4 linked regions of the Homo sapiens genome follow. The protein of the gene in region 3 purifies or fractionates together with the protein of the main gene of each other region. This does not show direct contact. Each region holds a gene or a part of one and is shown on either strand. Other genes may lie near its edges.

What was found.
Region 1: the proteins of KNOP1 (region 3) and RPF2 purify together in Homo sapiens (affinity purification with mass spectrometry; 2 studies listed by BioGRID and IntAct, with this or other methods). This does not show direct contact.
Region 2: the proteins of KNOP1 (region 3) and RPL26L1 purify together in Homo sapiens (affinity purification with mass spectrometry; 3 studies listed by BioGRID and IntAct, with this or other methods). This does not show direct contact.
Region 4: the proteins of KNOP1 (region 3) and SRSF12 purify together in Homo sapiens (affinity purification with mass spectrometry; 2 studies listed by BioGRID and IntAct, with this or other methods). This does not show direct contact.

What each region holds. Positions count from the first base shown.
Region 1 is NC_000006.12:110,977,775-110,985,055, reverse strand, and holds the start of RPF2 (ribosome production factor 2 homolog), read right to left. Parts: upstream 3,019-7,281; 5' UTR 2,950-3,018; coding exon 2,927-2,949; intron 51-2,926; coding exon 1-50. UniProt on the Homo sapiens protein: Involved in ribosomal large subunit assembly. May regulate the localization of the 5S RNP/5S ribonucleoprotein particle to the nucleolus.
Region 2 is NC_000005.10:172,962,247-172,969,478, reverse strand, and holds part of RPL26L1 (ribosomal protein uL24-like), read right to left. Parts: intron 1,021-7,232; coding exon 880-1,020; intron 67-879; coding exon 1-66.
Region 3 is NC_000016.10:19,715,228-19,723,126, forward strand, and holds the start of KNOP1 (lysine-rich nucleolar protein 1), read right to left. Parts: upstream 3,001-7,899; 5' UTR 2,931-3,000; exon of another isoform or gene 2,854-2,930; coding exon of another isoform or gene 2,676-2,853; exon of another isoform or gene 2,124-2,675; intron 1-2,123. Other genes in the region: IQCK (IQ domain-containing protein K), read left to right, coding at 3,080-3,260.
Region 4 is NC_000006.12:89,107,899-89,115,130, forward strand, and holds part of SRSF12 (serine/arginine-rich splicing factor 12), read right to left. Parts: intron 1-7,232. UniProt on the Homo sapiens protein: Splicing factor that seems to antagonize SR proteins in pre-mRNA splicing regulation.

The sequences.
Region 1 (7,281 bases), on a different chromosome or scaffold from region 3:
TCGGTTCTCTCTTCTCAAGGAATCTCTTGGCTCTTTTCGTTTTGGGCTTTCTGTTCAGAAAAGCACAATTCATAACTATTTAAACATTTTCCTCACATTGCAAAGCCATGACTTAACTAATATGAAAATTCTTAAAAACATATTTGTCACTTAGGGTTCCACCCTTAAAAAAAATCTCACTTTCTTTTTTTTGTTTGTTTTTTTTTGTTTGTTTTTGAGATGGAGTCTCACTCTGTCACCCAGGCTGGAGAGTGATGGCACAATCTTGGCTCACTGCAACATCCACCTCCTGAGTTCAAGCAATTCTCCTGCCTCAGCCTCCCGAGTAGCTAGAATTACAGGCACACACCACCACGCCTGGGTAATTTTTGTATTTTTAGCAGAGACAGGGTTTCGCCATGTTGGTCAGGCTATTCTCGAACTACTGACCTCAGGTGATCCGCTCACCTCGGCTCCCAAAGTGCTGGGATTACAGGTGCGAGCCACAAGGGCCGGCCAAAATCTCACTTTTTTGGTAGATATTAGTAAAAGATATTTCCTTATTATTGTTAAATAAGTGTTTTGATAGCTTTTAAAAAAAAGCTTTCATTTTTGTATTCCCACCATTCTTTTATTACTGCTCTTTCCAATCTTTTTTTTAAGTAAAAAATAAAAGGCTCAAGTAAATACTGTTGCTGTTTTTTTTCTCTTACTCTTTCTTACTCTTCTTTTTTCTTCAAACTTTAAGTAGTCAAACTGTATCCTGTACCCTAATACAAAGAATTGAGCATCAACTGCTGATCAACCTGTGGACATTTACTAAACATAAGACTAACGACTGCTTATTTTTCTTTTAGGTTTAAGACCACAATGCCTGCCAGGAAGTATACACTGTTGCACTCCAACATCATTGCTGAGAATGCCAGTATTATTGCCAACAATGGGGAATAATAAGGCTGATGTTTACATGGAGTCACTCTATTAAGGCTTAATCTTCACCACAATCCTGAGAGTTACAATTCTTATTTATTTATTTATTTATTTTTTTGAGACAGAGTCTCGCTCTGTCGCCCAGGCTGGAGTGCAGTGGTGCGATCTCGGCTCACTGCAAGCTCCGTCTCCCAGGTTCACGCCATTCTCCTGCCTCAGCCTCCCGAGTAGCTGGGACTACAGGCGCCCGCCACGACGCCCGGCTAATTTTTTGTATTTTTAGTACAGACGAGGTTTCACCGTGTTAGCCAGGATGGTCTCGATCTCCTGACCTCGTGACCCACCCCCCCGCCTCAGCCTCCCAAAGTGCTGGGATTACAGGCGTGAGCCTCCACGCGCGAGTTACAATTCTTATCTTCACTTTACAGATGAGGCAATTGAACAGACAGGTAATGTGCCCAAGATCACACAGCAAGTAAACAGGCCAATTTTTAAAATGAGCTAGGGCTGGGAGGTGGCCCACAGCCTGTAATAAAAACACTCTAGGAGGCCAAGGTGGATGGATCACTGAGCCCAGAAGTTCGAGACCAGCCTGGGCAACAATGCAAAACCCTGTCTCTACAAAAAATACAAAAATTAGCTGTGGTGGTGTGCGCCTATAGTCCCAGCTACTCAGCAGGCTGAGGTAGGAGGACTGCTTGATCCCAGGGAGGTCGAGGCTGCAGTGAGCTGTGATGGGGCTACTGCACTCCAGCCTGGGTGACAGAGTGATACCCTGTCTCAAAAAAAAACAAATTTTTTAAAGCTAGATTTAAAAATTCGTCTAGACCAATTACCCTGTAAAATATGAAGGGAAAATAAATTCATTATTCTGACTTTATGATGTGACAGTAGGAGTGGCATGTTTTTACACACTTCTGTTCAAAAGAGGGGCTTCACCTCTGCTTCCTCTACAATGAGCACCTTGCTTTTCAGACAGTTCTCTGCCATCTACTGAAAGAATTCTTCCTCCCAAATAATTATGACCCTCCCTCGTCCAGTCCCATGGACACTTTGGGAAGAAAAAGAGACCATACATACACTTAAGTTTCCCATGTAGATTTTTAAAATACTCCTCCAGATATAATGTCACATATAAAGCTTCTGATCATTTACTGGTTGATAAAGATACAAATTATTCTATCTTTTGTATCTCATTAAACAGCAACAAATGCAAATAGCAATTAACATGTTTTATTAGCTGCCTGCTCCCAATTAACGTGTGAACTAGTCCCAATACCTAGTAAACTACTCTTTGTAGTCCAAACAGCTAGAGGCATAGCAGGTGTGCAAAATCTCTGAATGACTAAAACTGTCGTTTTGGATACATGTTAACTTAGGTAAATAGCAAGAAAATCACAGCAAGTAACAGCAGGGCTGTTTAGCCCAAATATTCTTGAACAAATTTAAAACAGGTATCATTCAAGGATAACTCAGAGGAGTGTACAAAGTTGGAAGGAAAAGAAAAAACTAATGAACATTTCTACGTGCTGCAGCAAAGGCTCTACATACATTCTCGAAACTAACCCTCACAGCTCTATGAAGTATGACTATGGTGAGCGCTATTTTACAGAATAAGCTAAGATTTAGAGATATTTAATGACCCAAAGTCACAAAGCTTTAAGTGGACGCGCCAGACTGTCACTCAGATCTGTCGGATTCCGAGGGCTGTGCTCCTAACCCCACTATACCATCTGTCTCATACTTCGGAAGTCAGACGTTTTTCAACTGGCTAGGATAAAAGCGGCCAACGCTTCAATCCCACATCCCTCCCATCCCACGGCTCCCACTTGAGAGCTTCCCCACTGTCTCCTGGCAAGCAGCTCGCGCTGAGGAGGACCCGGGCTGGTGATCGATCGGCCCCCACCCAGGTAATTAGAGGGGTAACCAGGAAGAGTGAGAGGCCGAGACAGTACCACCCTCATCACGGGACCCTTTCACCCCAACGCTCCCCGGGGCTGAGACCCAGCGCACTTACACTACTCGATCCAGAGTGTCCATCGCTACCGCTACCTGCAACTCTTAACCAGGGGGCATGCACGTGCCCTCGGCGATTACGTGCGCCGGAACAGGCGGAACCGGAAGCTGCGCGTAACGCCACTTCCGGGGACGGCCTCGTAGAGGGCGTCTAGAGGCGCTGGCGGCCATCTTGATTGGAATCGCGCCCTGTTGTCTTGGTTACGGATTTTTGCCCCGGCTCTTTCCTGGAGTTACAGGTGCGAGGTAATACTTTTAAGTAACACTGGCCGGGCGTGGTGGCTCACGCCTGTAATCCCAGGATTTTGGGAGGCCCAGGCGGGCGGATTACCTGATAACAGGAGTTCGAGACCAGCCTGGCCAACATGGCGAAACCCCGTCTCTACTAAAAATACAAAAATTAGCCGGGCGTGGTGGCGGGCGCCTCTAACCCCAGCTACTCGGGAGGCTGAGGCAGGGAGAACTGCTTGAACCCGGGAGGCGGAGGTTGCAGTGAGCGGAGATCGCGCCACTGCACTCCAGCCTGGGTGACAGAGCGAGACTTCGTCTCAAAAATAAAATAAAAATAAAATAAAATAACATAGACCCTCGCAGTTTGATGTACGCGCTAGTGTGCATACCTGGAGTCAGGTATTCAGAAACCAGATTTTATTCTTCAAGGAATCCCAGGATGCTAGAAAGGTTGATTGATTGCACGGTAGGTACTCACATAAGCACTAAAAACATTGATGTGAAAGGGGCACTATTGACAACTATGCGATCTGTGTGACAGAATTTATGACTACCACAGTTGCCTAGTACATAAAAGATGCGCAGAAAATGTACTGCTGTTCGTGATTTTTCCCCAGTTTTTAAGTTACCATATACTTCACATACCATAAAATGTACCCCTTTACAGTGTACAATTCAGTGATTTTTGGTGTATTCACAAAGATGTGCAAATATCACCACTAATTCCAGAATATTTAATCACCTCAAAAAGAACCCCCCTGACACACACACCCAGTAGCAGTCCATGCCCCACTTCCCCCTCCTGCCAGCCCTTGGCAACCAATAATCTACTTTATGTTCAATGGATTTGCCTATTCTGAACATATATAAATGGTTTCGTGCAACGTATGGCCTTTTGTGTTTGACTTCTTTCACTATCTTTTTGAGGTTCATACATGTAGCGTGGATCAGTACTTCCATTTTGTTAGGACTGAATAATATTCCTTTGTATGGATATACCACATTTTGTTTATCCATTTATCAACCTAGGTACTTTTTTTATTTTAGACATAGTCTTGCTCTGTCGCCAGGGCTGAAGTGCAGTGGTGCGATCTTGGCTTACTGCGCCGTCCACCTCCCGGGTTCAAGCAGTTCTGCCTCAGCCTCCCAAGTAGCTGGGATTACATGCACGCACCACCACACCTTGCTAACTTTTGTATTTTTTAGTAGAGACAGGGTTTCACCATGTTGGCCAGGCTGGTCTTGAACTTCTGAGCTCAGGTAATCCACCCGCCTTGGCCTCTCAAAGTGCTAGGAATACAGGCGTGAGCTACTGTACCCGGCAGCTTATGTACATTTGAATGGTTCCTATTTTTTGGCTATTATGGATTATGCTGCTTTGTGTTTTTTTGTTTTGTTTTGCTTTGCTTTGTTTTGTTTCTGAGACAGAGTCTCACTCTGTCACACAGGCTGGAGTGCAGTGATGCAATCTCAGGTTACTGCAACCTCCATCTCCTGGGTTCAAGTGATTCTAGTGCTTCAGCCTCTCGAGTAGCTGGGACCACAAGCGCGTGCCACCACACCCAGCTGCTTTGAATATTAGTGTACAAATTTTTGTGTGGACATACATTTTCAATTCTCTAGGAGAAAAATTGCTGGGTCATATGCTGACTCTTAAGTGTAACATTTTGAGGCACTGGTAAACTGTTTTCCAAAGCACCTGCACCACTTAAATTCCCATGAGCAATGTAAGAGAGTTTGGTATTAGTTTCCTATTTCTGTTGTAACAAATTATCACACATTTATTATTTTATACTTCAGGAAGTCAGAAGTCTGAAATCAGTTTTGCAGGTCTAAAATGTAGGCCGGAAGCAGTGGCTCACACCTGTACCCAGCACTTTGGAAGGCTGAGGTGGGCGGATCATGAGGTCAGGAGATCAAGACCATCCTGGCTAACACCATGAAACCCGATCTCTACTAAAAATACAAAAAATCAGCCAGGCGTGGTGGCACGCCTCTAGTCCCAGCTACTTGGGAAGCTGGGGCAAGAGAATCACTGGAACCTGGGAGGTGGAGGTTGCGGTAAGCTGAGATCGCACCACTGCACTCCAGCCTGGGCAACAGAGTAAGACTCCGTCTCTTAAGTAAATAAATAAATAAATTAAATAAATAAATAAATAAAATGAAGAAGTCAGTAGGACTACATTCCACCTGGAGGCTTCAGGGGAGAATCGGTTTCTTGGCTTTTTCCAGCTTCTGTAGACTGTCTGCATACTTTGGCATTTCTCCATCTTCAAAGATCATCAGTTGAACTTCTTCCATTGTCACATCTTTTTCTCTGATGCTCTGACACTCCTAACTCCCTCTTAATAAAACCCTTGTGATTACATGGGCATCACCTGGATAATCCATGATAATCTCAAGATCCTTAATCGTATAGCAAATTCCTTCTGGGCATATAAAGTAACATATTCACAGATACCTGGGGGTTCTCAACATCTTTGGGCTGGGAGTTGAAGGAAGCATTGTTCTATCTACCAAAGGTTCCAATTTCTCCACTCCTCACCAAAACTTAGCATTGTCCATCTGTTTTATTAAGCCATCCTAACAGATATGAGTGGTATCTCATTGTGATTTTCATTTCCTTGATGGCAAGGCAAATGATGGTGAGCATGTTTTCATGTGCTGATTGATTACCCATTTTTATATCTTCTTTGGAAAAATGCCTATCCAAATCCTTTGCCCGGTTTTTAAATTGGGTTGTCCTTTTATTGTTGAGTTCTAATATTTTCTCATGTATTCCAGATATAAGTCCCTTACCTGATACATAATTTGCAAATATTTATCCCATTTAGTAGGCGTTATCTTGTTGTTAATGTGCTTTTCAGCACAGATCTTTTGAACTTTGTTGAAGCCCAGTTTACATATTTTTTCCTTTTGTTGCCTGTGCTTTTGGTATCATATCTAAGAAGCCATTCCCTATTCCAACATCACAAAGATTTACCCTATGTCTTCTTTCAAACATTTTTAATTGCAGCTCTTATATTTAAGCCTTTGGTCCATTTTTATTTTGATATATGGTGTGAGATAGGGGTTCAACTTTATTCTTTTGTATATGGATATCCAGTTGTCCCAGCATCATTTGTTGAAAAGATTATTCTTTCTCCATTGAATTGTCTTAGCATCCTTTTGCAATATCAATCGACCATAATTGTAAGGGTTTATTTCTGGACCCACAATTCTATTTAATTGATCTGTCTGGTTTTCATTATGCTAGATCCACAGCTTTGATTACCATATAGCATTGTAGTAAGTTTTGAAACTAAGAAATGTGACTTTTATGATTTTTCTCTTTTGCAAGATTGAATTTCCATATGAATTTTAGGGTCAATTTCTCAATTTCTGCAACAAAGGCAGCTTGGATTTTTCTTTTCTTTTTTTTTATGTTATTTTATCAATTGATTTTTTTTTTTGAGATACAGTCTCCTTTTGTTGCCCAGACTGGAGTGCAGTGGTGTGAACACAGCTCACTGCAGCCTTGACCTGGGCTCAAACAGTGCTCTCACCTCAGCCTCCCGAGTAGCTGAAATCACAGGCATGCACCACCACGTCTCACTAATTTTTAAATTTTTTATAGGGATGGGGTCTCATGTTGCCCAGGCTAATCTCAAACGGCTAGGCTCAAGCAATCCCCTTGCCTCAGCCTCCCAGTGTTCAGATTATAGAAGTGAGCCACAGCACTCGGCCTGACTTCTTTTCCTAGTTTGTTGAATGCTTTTTATCATGCAAGTGTGTTGGATTTTGTGTGTGCTTTTTCTGCATCTATTGAGATGATCATGTTGTTTTTTCCTTTATTCTATTAACATTTTGTATTACACTGATTTTCATATGTCCAACCAACCTTATATTCTTGGAATCAATCCTATTTGGTCATGGTGTATGATCCTTTTTATATGTTACTGGGTTCAGTTTGTTGATAGTTTGCTGAGGATTTTTGTGTCTATATTCATCATATTGGCCTGTAGTTTTCTAGTGGAATCTTTGTTTGGCTTTGGTATTGGATCAATACTGGCCTAATAGATTCAGATGGGATGTATTCCCTCCTCTTTAGTTTTTTGGAAAAGTTTGTGATGTCTGCTGTTAAGT
Region 2 (7,232 bases), on a different chromosome or scaffold from region 3:
AGACTTGGCTTTGCGTTCAAGAATTTTTTTCCGATCCTTGTCCAGTTTTAGCCTGGTGATAACCACCTGTTGGGAGTGAGAAAACAGGTCTTTATTTCTGCATCCCCACCAGCTATTGAGCAATATAGACATCATAAGTTAAGTAAGACCTCAGCCATTCAGCTTTTAAGGAACTGAAACTCTGGAAGGAAAACAGACCCTGTAACACAATACAAAATAGGAACACAAAGGAAAAATAGCATGTTCCACTAGGTAGGCATGAGGGCTACAGGAAGATATATTCTCTCTTATTCCTCTGAATATTATGTGGTAGGGGAAGTGATGCCTAGAACACTTGGAAGCCTCTTGCAACCAGCTTAAAGACACAGCCATCGGCCGGCCATGATGGCTCACACCTGTAATCCCAACACTTTGGAAAGCCGAGGCGGGCGGATCACGAGGTCAGGAGATCGAGACCATCCTGGCCAACATGGTGAAACCCCATCTCTATTAAAAATATAAAAATTAGCTGGGCGTGGTGGTGTGTGCCTGTAGTCCCAGCTACTTGGGAGGCTGAGGCAGGAGAATTGCTTGAACCCAGGAGGTGGAGGTTGCAGTGAGCCGAGATCGCACCACAGCACTCCAGCCTGGTGACAGAGCGAGCATCCGTCTCAAAAAAAAAAAAAAAAAAAAAAAGACACAGCCATCACCAAGAAAGGCAAAACAGAAAAGAGAAGAGAAGAAAAATCTGGATCCTTGATGATATCACAAAGCTACTGAATCAATCAAGTCCACCTGGCCTGCCTCAGCCAACTGTGCAGGGAGTACCAAAACACCAATAACTTTGAACAGTATTGACACACTCCATGGCTGCTACTGCCACTCAGTCCTTGACCATACCTTGCTTGGGTGAATGCCCACGTGGACAGTTGTGCCGTTGGCCTTCTCACGCTGCACCCGCTCGATGTAGATGACATATTTCTTTCTGTACACCTGGACTACCTTGCCAATTTGCTGACCTTTGTAGTGTCCTCGAACTACCTAAGAGAAAATACAAAAGAGAATCCCCCTCCATTTGTAGTGCATGATCATAAAGAGGAAGCTAACCATCAGGAACACATGGGCTAAACATATAACTTTGTCAAAAGCAGCTTAATCCTGGCAGTCAAAAATTAGCTACTTTTCTGATATAAATCTGTGTTGTGCTATGGTTGGGTGGAGATTTTTTACCTGGATCCCACAGAAATGTGCGATATGAGCTTTAGAGGAAAAAGGAGAATACAAAACTACATATAGAATATACTCTGAACTATATATATATACATATATATGTCAAGTATCCCTTATTCGAAATGCTTGAGACCAGAAGTGTTTTGGATTTAGGGTTTTTGGGATTTTGGAATATCTGCATTACTAGCTAAGCACCCCAAATCTGAAAATCTGAAATCCCAAAAGCTCCAAAGAACACTTCCTTTGACCATCACGTTGACAAAGTCTCAGATTTTGGAGCATTCTGAATTTGAGATACTCAAACTATATGAGTGTATGTGTGTGTGTATATATATAATATATATTACATATGTGCGTATATGTATTTATATGTCATATATACATACACGTATCATATACATACACATATGTACTTATATGTAACATACATATATGTCATACATACATATATGTACTTATATGTCATATATACATATATGTGTATACATACGTATATATGTGTATATATGTATATATACACACACATTTCATATATATAGCATGACACAGTGGGATAAAATATATATATAAATATTGGTAACAGCTGCCATTAGGCAGGAAGCAGGATTACAGATGACTGATTTTTAGATTTATATTCTTCTAAATTTCAACATTTCTACATTTAATACAAATATTTTAAAGTCAGAAAAAAAATTTTAAATCTCACAGACTGTTTTACTGTACTAAAAATCTACTCTATTCAAAAACCAACTAGATTAGGGTTTCCTTGAAAGCAAGAGCTTATTTATTTATTTATTTATTTTTGACACGGAGTCTCGCTCTGTTCCCCCAGGCTGGAGGGCACTGGCATGATCTTGGCTCACTGCAACCTCCACCTCCCAGGTTCAAGTGATTCTCCTGCCTCAGCCTCCCAAGTAGCTGGGATTATAGGCACGCACCAGCAGGCCTGGCTAATTTTTGTATTTTTAGTAGAGACCAGGTTTCGCCATATTGGCCAGGCTGGTCTCGAACTCCTGACCTCAAGTGATCTGCCTGCCTCGGCCTCCCAAAGTGCTGGGATTACAGGTGTGAGCCACCATGCCCAGCCACAAGAGCTTATTAAACACCATGCATGGGGGCCGGGCACGGTGGTTCACACCTGTAATCCCAGCACTTTGGGAGGCCAAAGCCGGTGGATCATGAGGTCAAGAGATCGAGACCATCCAGGCCAACATGGTGAAACCCTGTCTCTACTAAAAATACAAAAATTAGCTGGGCGTGGTGGTGGGCGCCTGTAGACCCAGCTACTCGGGGGGCTGAGGCAGGAGAATCACTTGAACCTGGAAGGCGGAGGTTGCAGTGAGCTGAGATGGTGCCACTGCACTCCAGGCTGGCGACAGAGCGAGACACCGCCTCAAAAAAAAAAAACCACCAGGTACGATGTGACTCTGATTAATAAGCATAGAGGAGATACCACATATAAAGAACTAGAGAACCCCAATACTCCTAAAATGTCTACGTATAGCTTGTTTGGCTTATTTTCCAAGGCGATTTTTAGGTTGAAGAGGACAATCATATCTCAGTGAAAAATCTACCACAGACTACATGACCAGAGACTCTCAGGACACACCTGGAAGAAGTCTTGTTAATACCATCAAGACTGAAGAAATACACACATACACACTTTTTTTAAGAGACAGGGTTTCACTATGCTGCCCAGGCTGGTCTCAAACACCTGAGCTCAAGAGATCCACCCACCTTGGCCTTCCAAAGTGCTGGGATTACATGTGTGAGCCACTGCACCTGGCCAAGACTGAAGAAAGATCTTAGGCCGGGCATGGTGGCTCACAGCTGTAATCCTGGTACTTTAGGAAGCTCAGGCAGGTGGACTGCTTGAGTCCAGGAGTTGGAGACCAGCCGAGGCAACATAGCAAGACCCCGTCTCTACAAAAAAAAAAAAAAAAAAAAAAAAAAAAATAGTTAGCCAGACATGGTGGCATGCGCCTATGATCCCAGCTACTCGGGAGGCTGAGGTGGGAGGATCACTTGAACCCAGGAGGTTGAGTCTGCAGCAACCTGTTTTTGCACCACTGTACTCCAGCCTGGGTGACAGAGTGAGATCCTGTCTCAAAATAAAATAAAATAAAAAATTAATTTAAAAAATTTTTAAAAAGAGAAGTGGACAACCTCTGGACATAGTGAAGAGGAAGACAGGAGACAGGATAAGACTAAGTCGGCTGGTCGACTAGACTGGAGAGGTGAGGATGAAGAGGGAAGGATGATACTCAGAGTCTGGCTTGGGCAACCAGGTGGATGGCAATGCCATTGCCAGATGCAGAGATCATAGGGGAAGCCCCGTATTTTAGGAGGAAATAGTTTAGTTTGGAACATGCTAAATTTGAAGCATCTGGGGACATTCTAACAGAGAATTCAGACACAGCTGGAATGCCAACTGGGCCAGCAATAGAGACGTGGGAGTCATCCACAGAGAGGCAATTAGGAGCTTCATGTTGCTCAAGGAGTGATGGTATGAGAAAAGGGCAGAATGTACACATGTGAGAAAAGCCAGCATTTTGGAAGAGCTTGTGAGAGATTAATGTGGCCAGAGCGAATGGGAAATCATGCAAGTGTGGTGTTACAGCAGCCAAGAGAATGTCAAATTCTGTGGGACTGTCAAGAACACAGAGGATAAGGTATTTAACAGATCTGACAACAAGGTCATCAACAGTGGCTGTGGCTGGAATGCCTTCACTGAGTGCTGGGATGGAGGCCATTAACAGTAAAGTGATGAGTGTACCAGGTGAGAAGGTGAAGGTGAGAAAAGACAGTCCAAAGGAGCTTGGCTCTGAAGATGAGAAGGGGATAGATGTTTGAGGGGGATGGAAAGCTAAGGGAACTTTCCTTTATTTTTTATTTTTAAAGAAGGGAAAACATGATTGTGTTTAAATGCTGATGGAAGGAACAAGTATGGAGGAAGACGGTAAAAGAAACTACAGAGAAAGAAGATAAGGGACCAAAAAAGCTCCAAGAGAAGAATGGAGCAGCACCCAGTGGCAGATGGATTAGGCTTAGGCAGAAACAGGGATATTTCTTTCTTTTTTTTTTGAGACAGAGACTTGCTGTGTTACCCATGCTGGAGTGCAGTGGCGTGATCTTGGCTCACCACAACCTCCGCCTTCTGGGTTCAAGTGATATCTCATTGCCTCAGCCTCCCTTGTAGCTGGGATTACAGGCATGTGCCATCACGCCCAGCTAATCTTTATATTTTTAGTGCAGACGGAATTTCGCCATGTTGGCCAGGCTGGTCTCGAACTCCTGGCCTCAAGCGATCCACCTGTCTTGGCCTCTCAGAGTGTTGAGATTACAGGCGTGAGCCACTGCACCAGGCCTGGGATATTTCTTTCATTGTAACAGAAGGGAAAGAAAATAAGAGGGGTGGAACTACAGGTAAACGTGTAGGTGTGGAGCCACGATTTCTGAAAGTTCCTGGCTGATAACTTCAATTTTCTCTGTAAAGTAGGAGGAACCATCACCTACTCAGAGAAAGAGGAAGGTAAGTGAGATTCAGAAGATCCCGTGAGAGGAGGCAATATTAACAAACCCAATCAGGGCTATTTTATTCTCCTGGTGGAGAAGTGTTCAGCCAGCATGGCCTTTGGCTGAAACAATTCATACCTCTTAGGCATTCAAAAAATGGCAACAGGCAGCCGGGCGTGGTGGCTCACGCCTGTAATCCCAGCACTTGGGGAGGCTGAGGCGGGTGGATCACCTGAGGTCAGGAGTTCGAGACCAGACTGACCAACATGGTAAAACCCCGTCTCTATTAAAAATATGAAAATTAGCCAGGCATGGTGGTGTGTGCCTGTAATCTCAGCTACTTGGGAGGCTGAGGGAGGAGAATGGCTTGAACCCGGGAGGCAGAGGTTGCAGTGAGCCGAGATTGTGCCACTGCACTCCAGCCTGGGCAACAAGAGTGAAACTCTGTCTCAAAAAAAAAAAAAAAAAAAAAGGCAACAGGCCAGACACTGTGGCTCATGCCTGTAATCCCAGCACTTTGGGAGGCCAAGGCAGAAGGATTGCTTGAAGCCAGGAGTTTGAGACCAGCCTGGGCAGCAAAGCAATACCTATTTTTAAATAAATAAATAAATAAATAAATGTCTCTAATTTAAAATATATATATATTTAACAGCAGCTCCTTCTCCCTCTTTGCCCTCCTTCTCTGTCTCACCTTCTACATCTTACCTACTCAAAAAATTTTTTTCATTCATTCAACAAATATTGACTGACCCTTCTCCTCTCTAAGTGTCAGGCTCTGCACTGAGGTCAGACAACAAACAAGATGAACTCTCTGGTTTCATGGAGCTTAGCCTGATGGCCAGTAAGCAGTTAATGAGTACATAGACAAATACATGACCACTAACTGGAATAAGTCACATAGGAACTTACTGGGATGATTAAAAATGGTCTTTTTAATGGTCTAATCATAATTAGGGTAATGGCTATTTGGTTTTACATTTGCCAAAACTGACCTGTGCATTTTACTGTGTGTAAATTATGCCTCAGTTAAAAATAAAATGATTTCAAATTGTGCTTACTGCTACGAAGAAAAAATAAAGAATGCTAGGCTATAATATTGGTTAAAGGATCTGGGAAGGCTTCTCTGAGGAACGGACATTTAAGGTAGGACCCGAAGAATGAGGAGTTACCTATGTAAAGGAGAGAAGGAAGAGCACTCCAGGCAGAGAGAACATTCCAGCGGGAGAAAAGATCAAGGTGTATTTAAAGACCCCAGAAGCCCAGTGTGGTTAAAGTGTAGAGCACATGGGGGTTAGGAGGAGATGAGGATGGAGAAGTAGACCAGGATTGGCCCATAGAGGGCCTTGCAGTCAATGATTTTAGATTTTTTTTTTTTTTTTTGAGACCGAGTTTTACTCTGTTGCCCAGGCTGGAGTGCAGTGGCGCAATCTTGGCTCACTGCAACCTCTACCTCCTAGGTTAAAGCGATTCCCCTGCCTCAGCCTCCCGAGTACTTGGGATTACAGGTGTGTGCCACCACACCTAATTTTTGTATTTCTAGTAGAGGTGGGGTTTCACCATGTTGGCCAGGCTGGTCTCGAACTCCTGACCTCAGGTGATCCACCCACCTCAGCCTCCCAAAGTGTCGGGATTACAGGCGTGAGCCACCGCGCCTGGCCATGATTTTAGATTTTATAAGCACATCAGGCACCATTGGTAAGCACCTGGCTAACTCCTCATTTCTCAGGTCTTCTCTTAAATGTATTAGTTCCTCAGAGAAGCCTTCCCAGGTCCTTTAATCAATATCATAGCATCCTTTATATTTTCTTCATAGCAATGAACACAATTTGAAATCATTTTATTTTTAACTGAGGCATCATTTACATACAGTAAAATGTACAGGTCAGTTTTGGCAGATATAAAACTGCCAAAGGATTTTTTTTTTTTTTTTTTTTTTTTGAGACAGAGCCTCACTCTGTCACCCAGGCTGGAGTGCAGTGGCATGATCTTGGCTCATTGGAAGCTCCCCCTCCCGGGTTCACGCCATTCTCCTGCCTCAGCCTCCCAAGTAGTTGGGACTACAGGCGCCCACCACCACGCTCAGCTAATTTTTTATATTTTTAGTAGAGATGGGTTTCACCGTGTTAGCCAGGATGGTCTCAATCTCCTGACCTCATGATCTGCCTGCCACAGCCTCCCAAAGTGCTGGGATTACAGGCGTGAGCCACTGTGCCTGGCCGTTTTTTGTTGTTGTTGTTGTTGTTTTTGAGACAGAGTCTCACTCTGTCACCCAGGCTGGAGTGCAATGGCACAATCTCGGTTCATTGCAACCTCCGCCTCCCGGGTTCAAGCGATTGTCATGCTTCAGCCTCCCGAGTAGCTGGGATTACAGGTGTGCACCACCACGCCTGGCTAATTTTTTGTATTTTTAGTAGAGATGGAGTTTCACCATGTTTCCCAGGCTGGTCTCAAACTCCTGAGCTCAGGGGATCCACCCGCCTGGGCCTCCCAAACTGCTAGGATTACAG
Region 3 (7,899 bases):
CCTAGGTTCAAACCTAAATGCCTCTCTCACCTTAAGTAAATCAGCTAACCTCCCTGAGCCTCAATTTCTCCATCTGGAAAATGGGGGAATATAACACCTCCCTCCTCAAAAGGGTGTTGGAGGGAGTAAATGAGATAACCCATGGAAAGGGCTTGGTACACTGTTAATTCCCTTTTTCTTTTTCTCTTTTTTTTTTTTTTTTTTTGAGACAGAGTCTTGCTCTGTCACCCAAGCTGGAATGCAGTGGCGTGATCTCGGCCCACTGCAACCTCCGTCTCCTGGGTTCAAGTGATTCTCCTGCCTCAGCCTCCCCTGAGTAGCTGGGATAACAGGCACCCGTGATCATGCCCAGCTAATTTTTTTTTTCTTTTTTAGGAGGGACGGGGTTTCTCCATGTTGGCCAGGCTAGTCTCAAACTCCTGACCTCAAGTGATCCGCCCGCCTCAGCCTCCCAAAGTGCTGGGATTACACGCATGAGCCACCTTGCCTGGCCTAGTTCCACTGTTTTTAAAATTTGAAGTTGATTGCCAACACTGAATGAGTCACAATGATGCACAGTACTGAGGGCACCCAGCTTGTCTTGGACAGATATCGTGGAAGCACCTGTGAGAATGGGCTGGGGTCCTCAATACCCATCAGTGTCCAGCTGGACCACTGCTCTCACTCCAGTCCCCAGCCAAGTTCCTGCACTAGACATTCCCAGAATCTAGAAGCAAAATATCCCAAAATATTTCATAGCAAGTTAGGATCATGGGAGGGAAAGGAAAAACTTCTCCATCCTGCAGCCCTCCTCAGCTTCGGAACTCAGAGGGTCCACACTGGAGCTGGCTCTCTCTTAGCAGCTTCAAAGAGCCAGGCCTGAGCTACAGGTCAAGTTCATTCATAACCCACTCCAGGCGCACCTGGAGAGTCAAGGGAATAACTATACTCATTCATTGCTGTCTGCCCTGTTTCCTGGTTTATTTCCAGTGTCCTGCTCAGTGCCTGGCACATAGCAGGTGCTCAATACATACTCACTGAATGAATGCACACATGCTAGGGATACAGAGATGAACAAGATAAAACACCACCCATCAAGAAGCAAGTAGGTGTGGGAGGGAATAAGGTGTAATACAATGATACAGGTGATAAAAGCAAGGACAGTGCTAAGGTCAGGGTGGTGGAGGTTGTGGAACCTGTCCTACCAGTTGTCAGGAAAATTTCTGAAGAACAACTGCAGGATGGTGGTATTAATCCCTGAGACAAAGGTACTGAAGGCAAGTGGCTGAAGAACAGGCTTGATTGGACAGATGACTTGGAGATGTTCACTGGACAGGTGAATATATATGGATGAGGAGTTTGGGTGGCCGTGCTGACACGGGCGACATAAAGTTAGGAATGTATGGGTGGTGATAAGCCTTGAACAGAACAAGCCTGAGACAAGACTTCAAGAAATACAGTAGCTCGCCACCTAATCCCAGGTTTCCGTTACCCCTGGTCAACCCTGGTCCCAAAATAGGTGAGCACAGTACAGGAAGTTATCTTGAGAGGGAGACCACATGCATGCAACTTTTATTACAGTATACTGTTGTAATTGTTCTATTTTATTACTAGCTAGATTGTTGGTAATCGTTTACTGCACCTAATTTTTTGTGAGACAAGGTCTGGCTCTGTTGCCCAGGCTGGAGTGCAGTGGCATCATCTCGGCTCACTGCAACCTCCACCTCCCGGGTTCAAGCAATTTTCACGCCTCAGCCTCCCGAGTAGCCGGGATTACAGGCACATACCACCACGCCCGGCTAATTTTTGTATTTTTAGTAGGGACGGGGTTTTACTATGTTGGCCAGGCTGGTCTCCAACTACTGGCCTCAGGTGATCCGCCCGCCTCATCCTCCCAAAGTGCTGGGATTACAGGCATGAGCCACCACGCCCGGCCCTACTGTGCCTAATTTATAAACTTTCTCATAGATAGTATACACAAGAAAAAACAGTTATATTTAGGGTTCGGTACTGTCTGTGGTTTCAGGCATCCACTGGGGGTTTAGGAACGTACTGCCCGCGGATAATGGGGGAGGGGGACTATTGTATTGGCATTTAAATAAGTGGGCAGAGATAAAGGAGCTTGCAAAGAAGAAGGTGCAAACCTTGAAATAGTGTAGTCAGGAGAGCCAAGACGACTTCAGAATAGGGGAGCAGTCAAGAGAGCCAAGACGACTTCAGAATAGGGGAGCAGTCAAGAGAGCCAAGACGACTTCAGAATAGGGGAGTGGCCAAGAGATCTGGTAAGAACAAAGAATCCACCGGGAGGTTGCGGGTCAACTCTTAATCCCCTTCTCTCCCCATCTCTTGCCATTTAGAAAAGTATAGCATCCTCCTCTTTAGCCCTGCGACCAAATGCATTCACTCTTTCAAGGAGAAAGGAAAAGAACGTTACAGTGCATCTCCTGCAAACGCAAACGCTTTCTCCAAAACCGCTTTTAAATTCCAGGGACAGCCTTGTGAAGATCTTTGTGAATACCCGACCTCGCAAGCTCCAGAGACTACAATAATTCACTTGCCCTAGGTTCCAAAGCCAGCAAGTGGAAAACGGAGACTGGAATTCCGCCCACAGGACTCCAAAGCCTGTGCAGCAACACCCCACTCCCCCGGCAGGATCACCAGCAGGACGCGCGGGAGCCAGGAAGTAAGATCCGTACCTCCAAGGCTCCCATGGGCCCAAGCCTCCGCATCAACAGACTGGGAGGGATTACGTGGGGTCCCAGGGCCGGCTCTGAGGCGGGAAAACTTTCTGGAGGCGGCGGCCTCAGGCCGGAGCGGGCGCACACCGACTGGAGGGGTCGGATTCAGGGATGTGGGTGGACCGCATTTCCCCATCTTCCCCGCCGCGCACTTCCTCTGGTGCAATCTCCACACCCCGCGCCGGCCCGCCTGCAACGCGCCCTGGCACTCACCGGTGGGCGAAATTTCCCCGCCTCCACGTGAGAGCCAGCTCCGCCGTGACCCGGAAGTCCACTTCGAGTCGCCGGCCCACCCTCTCGGGTTCCGGCTTCTTCCGGGTCGCGGCCTTCCGGCGAACGCGGTTACCGTGGAAACCGCGGCCATGGCGGCACCGCGGCAAATCCCCAGCCACATAGTGCGCCTCAAGCCCAGCTGCTCTACAGACTCGTCGTTCACCCGGACGCCGGTGCCCACCGTGTCTCTCGCGTCCCGCGAGCTGCCTGTCTCGTCGTGGCAGGTCACCGAGCCGTCAAGCAAGAATCTGTGGGAGCAGATCTGCAAGGGTAGGAAACCTGGGCTGGCCGAGAGGGGCGGGACCCGGGCGGCCGGACGGGGGCCGCGTTTGGGGAGCGCCCACTGTGCGCCTGTCGGCTGACGGGCGGGGCCGCCGGGCAGCGGCTCCGCGGGCCCGGGCTCCGCATTTTACGCATGGGGAAACTGAGGCTCGGAGAGGCTGGCCCGAGGTTACGCAGCGCGGACTCCAATCGCGATCCGTAGTGAGGTTAAAGGCAAGGGAACGGCGAGGGAAAGCTGAATAAAGAGAACCATGCGGTGTGGACCATTGGTTCTTAAACCTCGGTTAGTGAACCGAAAGGAATTGCTGGGGCGGGGGCCGGGGTGGGGATCTTGTTATAAACGGAGGTTCCCAGGCCCCGCCCACAGAGCTTCAAATTGGGATGCAGGGAATCTGCACTTTTTAAAAGAGCACCCCAGGTAATCCTAACGTAGGTAGTCGGTGGCCCACACGTTCAGTAACCATGGTGTGGACAAACGGGTTTTAGTCCCTTCTTGCTTCAAACCTTCCTTAACCTCCCCAGGCGGAGTTGAGCACATCTTCCTTTGTGGCTCTACTCAGTATTTGTTACTTAGGTTGGGCAAATTATTTAACTTATGACCCTGTCTGCAAAGTGGGCATAATAATGGCACCTATTTCGATGGTGTTAAGAAGATGGAACCAGATAGTCACAAAAAGTGCTTAGCAAACTGCCTGATTTTAGGAGGGCAAAAGGATTATTGGGGAAAAAAAAACACAAACTGCTCGATTTACAGAAGGAGCTACGTAAGCGCTAGTTCTTAATGAATAATGTTGGGTGGGATGTTTTCTTTTTCCTCCACTAGACCATAAGCTCCTCAAGGTCAAGGACTCAGATTTTTCATTCGTGTGGCCACCATCACTACCTAAGCTGCCTGAAACAGCGCGGTGAAACCCCGTCTCTACTGAAAATACAAAAAAAAAATTATCTGGGCGTGGTGGTGTGCGCCTATAATCTCAGCTACTTGGGAGGCTGAGGAAAGGGAATTGCTTGAACCAGGGAGGTGGCGTTGCAGTGAGCCGAGTTTGCGCCACTGCACTCCAGCCTGGGTGACAGAGCGAGACTCCATCCCCAAAAAAAAAAAAGTGTGGTTAGTTAGCATTTGAAATGTGATTAGTGCAATTGAGTAACTGAATTTCTTGTTGGACTCAAATTTTTTTTTTTTTTTTTTTTTTGAGACGGCATGTTGCTCTGTCGCCCAGGCTGGAATGCAGTGGCACTGGCTGGGCTCACTGCAACCTCCGCCTCCCGGGTTCAAGCATTCTCACACCTCAATCTCCTGAGTAGCTGGGATTACAGGCACCCGTCATCATTCCTGGCTAATTTTTTTATTTTTGTAGAGAAGGGGTTTCACCATTTTGGCCAGGCTGCTCTTGAACTCCTGACCTCAGGTGATCTACCTGCCTCGGCCTCCCAAAGTGCTACAATTACAGGCCTGAGCCACCAGGCCCAGCCCAGACTTAATTTTAATAAATTTAAATAGCCACATTTGGATAGTGGCTGCTGTATTGGATAGTGCAGGTCAGTAAATGTTTATTGAATGGAAAAAAAGAATGAATGTACCAGTATATGCGATGACTCGAAAGAAGTGGAGAATACAGAGAAGGAAGAGAATAGTAGACTCAGTTGATAGATGCCCTCCAAAGCTGTCTGTTTCAACCCCATCCAGTACTTAAATTCCTTCTCCAACCTTACATTGTGCTAGAAAAATCCCTTTCATTTTGCATGTTCTCTTTGTCACTTTCACCCCTACGTCCTTACCTCTTGGTGCTATGATCCAAGGAGCTAATCACTCTACCCCAAAGAATCTACTCAGATAATTTGACGGTAGTTATTGTGGCTGCCTTTTCCCCAGAGCTTTCACTTCTCCAAGCCAAACAGTTTCTTATAATACAGTTTACTAGAGGATTGTTAGAAAAGTTACTCAGCCTCATCTGTAAGAGACAGATAATTGTTGTGCCTACCTCACAGGGCTGTTGTGGGGACCAAGTAAGATAATGTATGAAAAGGTGCTTAGCACAGTGCCTGGCATTTAAAAAGTAGTCAATAAATGTTCATTATTGTTGACAAAGAAACATGCCTTGTGTTGTGATTTACACACCGAGTTTATTTTGGTCAAATAGGCCTCTAGAGAGAAAGCAAAGACAAAGGGTTTTGGTTCTCTCTGAAGAGCAAGTGAATTGATGCCACTTTTAAAATGATAGAGTTACAGAATGAGGTCAGGCATGGTGGCTCACACCTGTAATCCCAGCACTTTGGGAGGCCAAGGCGGGTGGATCACCTGCGGTCAGGAATTGGAGACTAGCCTGGCCAACATGTTGAAACCCTGTCTCTACTAAAAATATAAAAACTAAGTCAGGCTTGGTGGTGGGTAATCCCAGCTACTCAGGAGACTGAGGCAGGAGAGTCGCTTGAACCTGAGAGGCGGAGGTTGCAATGACCTGAGATCGTGCCACTGCACTCCAGCCTGGGCAACAAAGTAAGAATCCGTCTAGAAAAAAAAAAAAAACAATTCAGTGAGGTCAACATTGGCAAACTATACACATGGACACTGTGATGAGTATTATAACAGATGGATAAACCCAATTCTTAAACATCTAACAAATGCAGTTTTCTATAACATGTAGTAAATTCAGTTTCTGACAACAAACATGAAAAAACAGGCTTTGTAGTAATCCTATCTTTGAGATTAAGTACTACATTCTCTTAAGATAATCTCCATTCAAAAGACAAATTATCATAGCAAACAGACCTGCCAGAAACTCAATTTCATGAAGACAAAATACAAAGTAGGTCAATATCTAACTTACACAGACCTTAACCAACCTGACTAGTGCTCTTTTGTATGTATGTGCATGCTCACCACTATAACTTATTTGTAAATATTCTTCAGTTTTCTCCCTCATCTTTCCAGTGACAACTGAGTTTTGTATTCTAAAAAGCACTCGTGTTAGTGTCAATAAACTTCTTCCCGGCCAACACTTCTAATCAAATCTTATAGTAGTTTGTGACTAGCTGTGTTCATGGTTTTAATCAAGACAATCAAAGGATGTGGGGCTTAACAGTTTCCTTTTTTTTTTTTTTTTGAGATGAAGTCTGGCTCTGTCACCCAGGCTGCAGTGCAGTGGCGCAATCTCGGCTCACTGCAACCTCTGCCTCCCAGATTCAAGCAATTCTCCTGCTTCAGCCTCCCAAATAGCTGGGATTACAGGCACCCACCACCATGCCTGGCTAATTTTTTGTAGAGATGGGGTTTTGCCATGTTGGCCAAGCTGGTCTCAAACACCTGACCTCAAGCAGTCAGCCCGCCTCATCCTCCCAAAGTGCTGGGATTACAGGCGTGAGCCACCGCGCCTGGCCTTACAGTTTCCTATTTTGATATGCTGTGATTACTGTTATCAGCATCCTCACTATTGTCATTGGTTCATCACTTAATCAAGCACTCTCTGGCCTCAGCCCTCAATGCTGTTGTAAAATCTGGCCTTTCATTTCACCTGCCAGATACCGACATGGATCAGTTGTGAATCAATACTTGTTCCTCCAGCACAGCCACTGAGCCAGCTGAAGAAAGATGACCCCAACTGGCTCTCAGCACTGCTCAGCAATCAGCATCTCTCAATGCCTTCTCCCATTGCCTGGTTCTACTAGTCCAAGTCTGTAACACCTCCTGAAATGTTCTGTGATACCTCTTAGCATAGGATGCGTTCACTGAGAAGAGTCAGGCAGTCAGGAGTGGGGAGGGAGTCTGCTAACATCCATCTGTACACGTGGAAGAAGCTCTCACCCCGCTACTCGCCACTCAGCTCTCCATCTTTGCTTACCGTCCCCTTGCTATTCCAGGATCCTGCTTTATCACTCACTTCCTCTGCTACGCCTTTAACTTCTCTACTAGCTTTTTCCTCCAAACACCCCTGGCCTGTCATATCAGGAAGAAACCTCCACCATGACCCTATATCCTCTTCCAGCTCCTATCAGTCTTTCATTCCCATTCCCTTATCAACTAAGGGCAGACCAGCTTCTTCCTCATTTCTCCGAATAAATTGTTCTTAAGCATTGAGCCAACTTGTATCTACCAGGGCTGGGAACTGTTTTCAATGCTGGGCCAGGTATAACTGCAGGCACTGTTTTAGACGCCAACAACTTATCTCCATCTCCACGAATGTTACCATCGTTCACTCAGCTGCCCAGTCCAGCTTTTTTTTTTTTTTCCTTCCCTTGAGACAGAGTCTTGCTCTGTTGCCCAGGCTGGAGTACAGAGGTGCGATATCTGCTTACTTCAACTTCCACCTCCCAGGTTCAAGCAATTCCCCCACCTCAGCCTCCTGAGTAGCTGGGATTACAGGCACTTGACACCATGCCCAGCTAATTTTTGTATTTTTAGGTGGGGTTTCACCATGTTGGCCAGGCTGGTGTCGAACTCCTGACCTTAGGTGATCCACCCGCCTCAGCCTCCCAAAGTGCTGGGATTACAGGCGTGAGCTACCGCATCCGGCCTGCTTCCCTTTCACTTTCCACGGCCCCACACTCTCATTTGCCAGTCCTTATAGATTCTACCTGTTTAATATCTCCCACCATCCCCACCCTGCCCCCACTCCCCACCCCCACCAGT
Region 4 (7,232 bases), on a different chromosome or scaffold from region 3:
CACCTCTGAAAGTTATTATAAGACCTAATAAGTAATTGTTTCACTAAGAACACATTCATTTTGCTTCACTTTAATTTCATGTTTATGTTAATCTTGTTTTCAGATAGCAAGAATTAGATTCTAAAGAAGTCCTAAAATTATTTATCAGGCTTTAAAGAAAAATGGATGTTTTAATATTAAACATAAAACAAAGTAACTACTGTATTCCCAAATCTGACAGGTATTTCGAGCCTGCTTATGTGCCTTCTAGTGCGATTAGGTGCTTCAGAAGGGGTACCAAAAAAAAGAAACAGCATGATATTCATCTTCATGGAGCTACAATTTAACTGAAGAGACAAAATATTTAGCAATAATAGCTAACAGTTACAGTGCATTTATATGTTAGCCAGTGTTCACCTTACAACCACTTAATTCTTACAATTTCCCTGTGGTTATTTACAGATGATACAGACAGATTATGGGTGATACAGACAGAATTTCAGGTTATTTACAGGTAATACAGGCAGATTACAGGTGATACAGACAGAGTAACCTATCTAAGCTCACTGAGCCAGCAAGTGACAAAGCTAGAAATCAAATTTTCAGTCTCATACTGGTCCATCTTAACCACTACACCCTACTGCTTCATGGTGCTATCATAGGGATTCAGCATCAAGCTATGATCATAAAATGTGGCTCGGGAGAAATAAAGATTCAAAGATGACTAAGAAGCTTCTAGCTTGGACAAATGGAAAAAAGATGGTGTCAGTGACAAAAATTAGAAGAGAGCTAGATCAAGGAGGAAGAAAAGAGGCAAAAGAAGCAACTTTCAGGTTTAGAAATGCAGTATTTGAGGTGATGGTAGAACACTGATAAGAGTTCTATAAGCAACAGAAAATTGTGATTATATGCATATTAATTAGTGTGTATTAATATAATTATTAGAAGCCAGTGACTAAGGCTAGAGATGGGGATTTAGAAATTACATATAAGATTCAACAAAAATTGACTAAGCATCTACTTTTTGCCAGTAGCTCAGTCAACATTATGACATACTTTATTTCATTTAACACTCATAGAACATGTTTTACTATTAGTTTCTGAGGACAGTGACAATGTCTTTTTTCTTTTACTTATTCAGAATTAAGCAAATACTTATTGAGCACCTACCATGTGCCAGGCTCTAGGAATATAATGAGAAACAAGAAAAACACAATTCCTGCTCCCACAGACCATAGACTGGCATAAAGATTCTCAACCTCTCCTGAGTACTGTAATCATCTGTGAAGGGATGTTACAGACAGAGGCACCCCAACCCGATGCATTAATTCTGGACCTAATTAGTGTTTTCCATAGTGAGGCCCAGTTATGTTTAATTTTTTCAGGACTTCACAGGCAATTCTGAGACTGAAGGTTAAGAATCACTGCTAAAGCAGGTGTCTTCACCAGCATATCTCTGTACCTAATGTAGCTGCTGGGCACACAGTAGGTACTCAATATATATTTGCCTATCAATGAAAAAAGAATACATTACTGTTACCATTTAAGAGTTAAGGAGACTGAGGGTGAGAGAAGTTACCTTGCCCAGAGATCTACACAGCCAGTAGTAGAGCTAGGATTCAAATGAAGGTCTTCTGAGACAACCAATCCCATCAACCAAATGTAGTGGCTAAGAGGAAAGGGATCATAGATAATATAAAAGAGGAGGCTGCAGCACTGTGTGCCACAGAGGTCTGGAGTCTGGAAGCCAAGGGTGATGGGAGTCAGATGGAACAGGTCTTTTCAAAAGAGCCAATTCCCATTCACTGTCTCCACTCCCTCACCTGTTAGCTGTTGTTTTATTTTTGCACTTTTGGTATGATCTACTTCAATATTCAAAAAAGTACAGAGAATAATAAACACCCATGTATCTACCAACAAGATTTATTTTCTGGCCGGGCGCGGTGGCTCACGCTTGTAATCCCAGCACTTTGGGAGGCCGAGGTGGGCGGATTACGAGGTCAGGAGATCGAGACCATCTTGGCTAAGAGGGTGAAACCCCATCTCTACTAAAAATACAAAAAATTAACTGGGCGTGGTGGCGGGCGCCTGTAGTCCCAGCTACTCAGGAGGCTGAGGCAGGAGAATGGTGTGAACCCAGGAGGCGGAGCTTGCAGTGAGCCAAGATCATGCCACTGCACTCCAGCCTGGGCAACAGAGCAAGACTCTGTCTCAAAAAAAAAAAATTATTTTCTCCGTATTTGACATACTTGCCATAATTTTCAGTATTTTTAAAGAAATATTATATCCTTCTGTTACCAATGGAGGGTCTTGCCTATGAGTCCTCCAGGTTCTTGGCATTTTTAACAAAGAATTGGACAAAATGCACAAAGCAATGAAAAAATGAAGCAATGAAAGCACAGATTTATTGAAATGAAAAGATACTCCACAGAGTGGGAGCAGGCTCAAGCAAGCCACTCAAGTGCATTGGTTACAGAATTTTCTAGGGTTTAAATACCCTCTAAGGTTTCCCACTGGTTACTCGGTTACACCCTATGTAAATGAAGACTTGGCCCACCACCAGTCTGGTGGAGGGAGGCGACCAATTAGAGGCTGAAGCAAAGCTACAAAGTTACACATGAAGACTTGGCCTGGGACCAGTCTGATTGGTTGTAGGAGGGGACCAGTCAGAGGTACTTTCCATTTTTTATCTGTAATACAGTGCAAAGGGAGTAGCCTCTGATCCTTTTGTTACTTGGGTGTAGAGAGGTGGAGTTCTCCTTTTGATTCAGTTCTAGGAAGTCACTGTGAATCGGCCTTAGGTTCCCTGCCTCCAGACCCTATTCTCCTGCTTCAGTATCACTAGCAAAGAAATTGGTAGGCTGGAGGGTATGCCTACCTTAGCTTCACTACATGTTCTTCAGAGTGGCCCAACCAACTTACATTTCCAAAAACATGTGTTAGAATTCCCACTGTTGCCCAGGCATGGTGGCTGATACCTGCAATACCAGCAGTTTGGGAGGCCAAGGTGGGAGGACTACTTGAGCCCAGGAGTTCAAGATCAGCCTGAGCAACATAGTGAGACCCCCATCTCTACAAAAAATAAAAAAAAATTAGCTGGGCGTGGTGTCTATAATCCCAGCTACTTAGGAGGCTGAGGAAGAAGAATCACTTGAGCCCAGGAGTTTGAGACTGCACTGAGCTATGATCATGCTACTGCACTCCAGTCTGGGAAGACAGGGTGAGACTTGTCTTTTTTTTTTTTTTTTGGAGATGGAATCTTGCTTTGTCACCCAGACTGGAGTACTGTGGCACAATCTCGGGTCACTGCAGCCTCCACTTCCCAGGTTCAAGCTATTCTCGTGCCTCAACCTCCCAAGTAGCTGGGATTACAGGCATGTGCCAGCACACCTTGTTTATTCTATTATTAGTAGAGATGGGGTTTTGTTATGCTAGCTTTTAAAATTCCTCTTGAAAATATGTTGTAGTTTTTGGTGCAAAGGTTCTGCACATTTTTTGTTAACTGTTTTCCTAAGTAAGTATGCCTTTTGATGCTATGGTAAATGCAACTGTTTTTTAAAATTGTCATTGTTTTCAATTGTTTGCTGTTAATATATAGAAATAAAGTTTTTGTAAATTTACCTTATATCCTCATAACTTACTAAACTTATTAGTTCTAGCAGTTTTTTTGTTCATTCCCTAGTATTTTCTATGTAAGCAAATATGTCACCTAAGAATGGTTACTTTTATCTTTCCAATTTTTGTATTTTATATCTTTTTTCTTGCCTTGTTGCACTGGTTAGGACCTGCAATAAAACGTTGGCGGTTGTGAGTGGCAATCTTTTCTTTTTCCTGATTTTATAAGGAAAGCATTGTCTTTCATCATTAAGTATGATGTTAGCTATGTTTTTTATAGCTGACATTTATTAGGTTAAGAAGTTCTCTTCTATTCCTAGTTTGCTCACACGTTTTGTTGTGTTTTTGTTTTTGGAGACAGGGTCTCAGGTCTCACTCTGTCACCTAGACTGGAGTTCCATTAATACACTATATTTAACATTAAAAAATTATTCCTTTATGCAGTACAAAAGCAAAGATATTATTTTTCCTAAGCTACATCTTGTTTCACCAGTGAAAAGAAACATAACACAAATTTTAAAACTATTTATTTTGAGACCGAGCCTCACTCTGTTGCCCAGGCTGGAGTGCAAGGGCGTGATCTCGGCTCACTGCAACCTCCTCCTCCCCGGTTCAAGAGATTCTCATGACTCAGCCTGCCGAGTAGCTGGGATCCTCAGGTGAACCGCCCGCCTCGGCCTCCCAAAGTGCTGGAATTACAGGCATGAGCCACCTCTCCCGGCCTAAAACTTATTTTTAAAATTTCTTTAGTTCTTGTGTTCAATTTCATTTCTGTCAAATTTTACACTAATTCACAAAGCCTTTTAGTGTCTTCTGCTTTTAATTTTTTAAAAATTTGTTTTGTTTTAAAACATTCTTAGTAAATAAAATTTGAAAAATATTTGAAAAAAGGAAGAAGAAAAGTAAGTCCTACTGTCCAAATTAATTTCTTTCTAGTCTCATTTTCTTTTCTTTCTTTTTTTTTTTTTTTTGGAGACAGGGTCTCGCTCTGTTGCCCAGGCTGCAGTGCAGTGGTGATATCATAACTTGCTCCAACCTTGAACTCCAGTACCTAGGACTACAGGCACGCATCACCATGCCCGGCTAACTTTTTTTTTTTGGTAGAGATGAGGCCTTGCTATGTTGCCCAGGCTGGCCTTGAACTCCTGTCCTCAAGGGATCCTCCTGCCTTGGCCTCCCAAAGCACTGGGATTACAAGCATAAGCCACTGAGCCTGGCCCTAGTCTCATTTTCCATATATAGCTTTTTCCTTTTTTCATTTTTTAATATAGTTATGCACCACATAACAATGTTTCAGTCAATGATGAACCATATATATCATGGTGGCCCCATAATCTTATAACAAAGCTGTCCTAGACAGGTGTACCTTTTAAAAAATCTTTTACACCATATTTTTAGTGTCTTTTCTATGTTTAGATACATGTAGGTAAATGTCTTAAAATTGCCTGCGGTATTCAGTATTGTAACATGCTGTACAGGTATGTAGCCTAGAAGCAACGGGCCACACCACATAGCCTAGGTGTGTAGCTGGCTTTACTGTGTAGTAGGTTTGGGTTTGTACAACAACAAAATCACCAAATGGATTTGTCAGAACCTATCTCTGTCCTTAACTGATGCATGACTGTAACTGAAATCATGCTGCATATATAATTTTACATATGTTTTATTTAACATTTTATCCCAATGATTTATTTTTTTTTGAGACACAATTTCACTCTGTCACCCAGGCTGGAGTGCAGTGGCCGGTATTGGCTCACTGCAACCTCTGCCTCCCAGGTTCATGCGATTCTTCTGCCTCAGCCTCCCTAGTAGCTGGGACTACAGGCGAGTGCCACCACGCCCAGCTAATTTTTATATTTTTAGTAGACACAGGGTTTCACCATATTGGCCAGGCTGGTCTCGAACTCCTGACCTCGTGATCCGCCCACTTTGGCCTCCCAAAGTGCTGGGATTATAGGCGTGAGCCACCGCACCCAGCCCAATTTTTTCTATTATTAGTAGAGATGGAGCTTCACTATGTTAGCCAGGCTCATCTCGAACTCCTGACCTCAAGTGATCCACGTGCCTCGGCCTCCCAAAGTGCTGGGATTATAGATGTGAGCCACCGTGCCAGGCCCCAAAGATTTTGTTTATAAGCATACTAAATGTTAAAGCCTATTTATTTATTTATTTTTGAGACAGAGTCTCACTCTCACCCCCGGAGTGCAGTGGTGCCATCTTGACTCACTGCAGCCTCGACCACCTGGGCTCAGGCGATCCTCCCACGTCAGCCTCTCAAATAGCTGAACTACAGGTGCGCACTACCACACCTGGCTAATTTTTGTATTTTTTGGTGAGACAGGGTTTTGCTATGTTTCCCTGGCTGGTTTCAAACTCCTGAGCTTAAGTGATCTACCCACCTCAGCCTCCAAATGTGCTGGGATTACAGGCATGAGCCACTGTGCCCTATCTTTAAAGCTAATTTTAAAAGTGTCTACATGTCACATTGCTAGTTAACTTATACTGTATACTACTTTGTACTAAAAGGTTAATACAGATTACATGTGATGATTCTAATTTCATATCATCACTCACCTGCTATTCGATCTTAGGCAAAATACTTAACCTAAACGTTGATTTCTCATCGGTAAAATGGGGTTAACAAAGAACATACGGCCAGGCGCAGTGGCTCATGCCTGTAATCCCAGTGCTTTGGGAGGCCAAGGTGGGCGGATTACCTGACATCAAGAGTTCGAGACCAGCCTGGCCAACATGATGAAACCCCGTCTCTACTAAAAATACAAAAATTAGCCAGGCATGGTGGCACACATCTGTAATCCCAGCTACTCGGGAGGCTGAGGCAGGAGAACTGCTTGAGCCCAGGAGGCGGAGGTTGCAGTGAGCCGAGATCGTGCCACTGCACTCCAGCCTGGCTGACACAGCAAGACTCTGTCTCAAAATAAAACAAACAAACAAAAAAACCACCATACATTATAGGGTTACTGCGAAAATTTAATATATGTAATGTTTTTAGTATGGCACCTAGTACACAGTGAGTATTCAACAAATGTTAGAGATTTCATTCATGTAATATAATCTTGTAGATTTTGATTGTCTGCCAGTGGCAAAGCTAAAAAAAAAAAAAAGTGAAAAAATGGAAAAGGAAATCAGTCAATCTCAACTATCAGTCTCAATCACTCACTGGTGAATGAAGTACATAGATCAGAGATCAGGTGTCACCTGCAGATGTGTTTTATTTGGCCTGCATGACGTTTAAACATTTTTAAAATGCGTATAAATATGAAATTGCCAATATTTTACTGCTTTTATTTTTTTAGTTTTTGAGACAGAGTCTCGCCCTGTCGCCCAGGCTGGAGTGCAATGGTACTATCTCGGCTCACTGCAACCTCCACCTCCCGGGTTCAAGCGATTCTCCTGTCTCCGCCTCCCGAGTAGCTGGGATCACAGGCACGCACCACCATGCCTGGTGAATTTTTTGTATCTTTAGTAGAGACGGTGTTTTACCATGTTGGCCAGGCTGGTCTCAAACTCCTAATTTCGTGATCTGCCCACCTCGGCCTCCCAAAGTGCTGGGATTATAGGCGTGAGCCACCACGCCCGGCCACAGCTTTTATTTTTTTAGACTCTCTAAAGGTCTC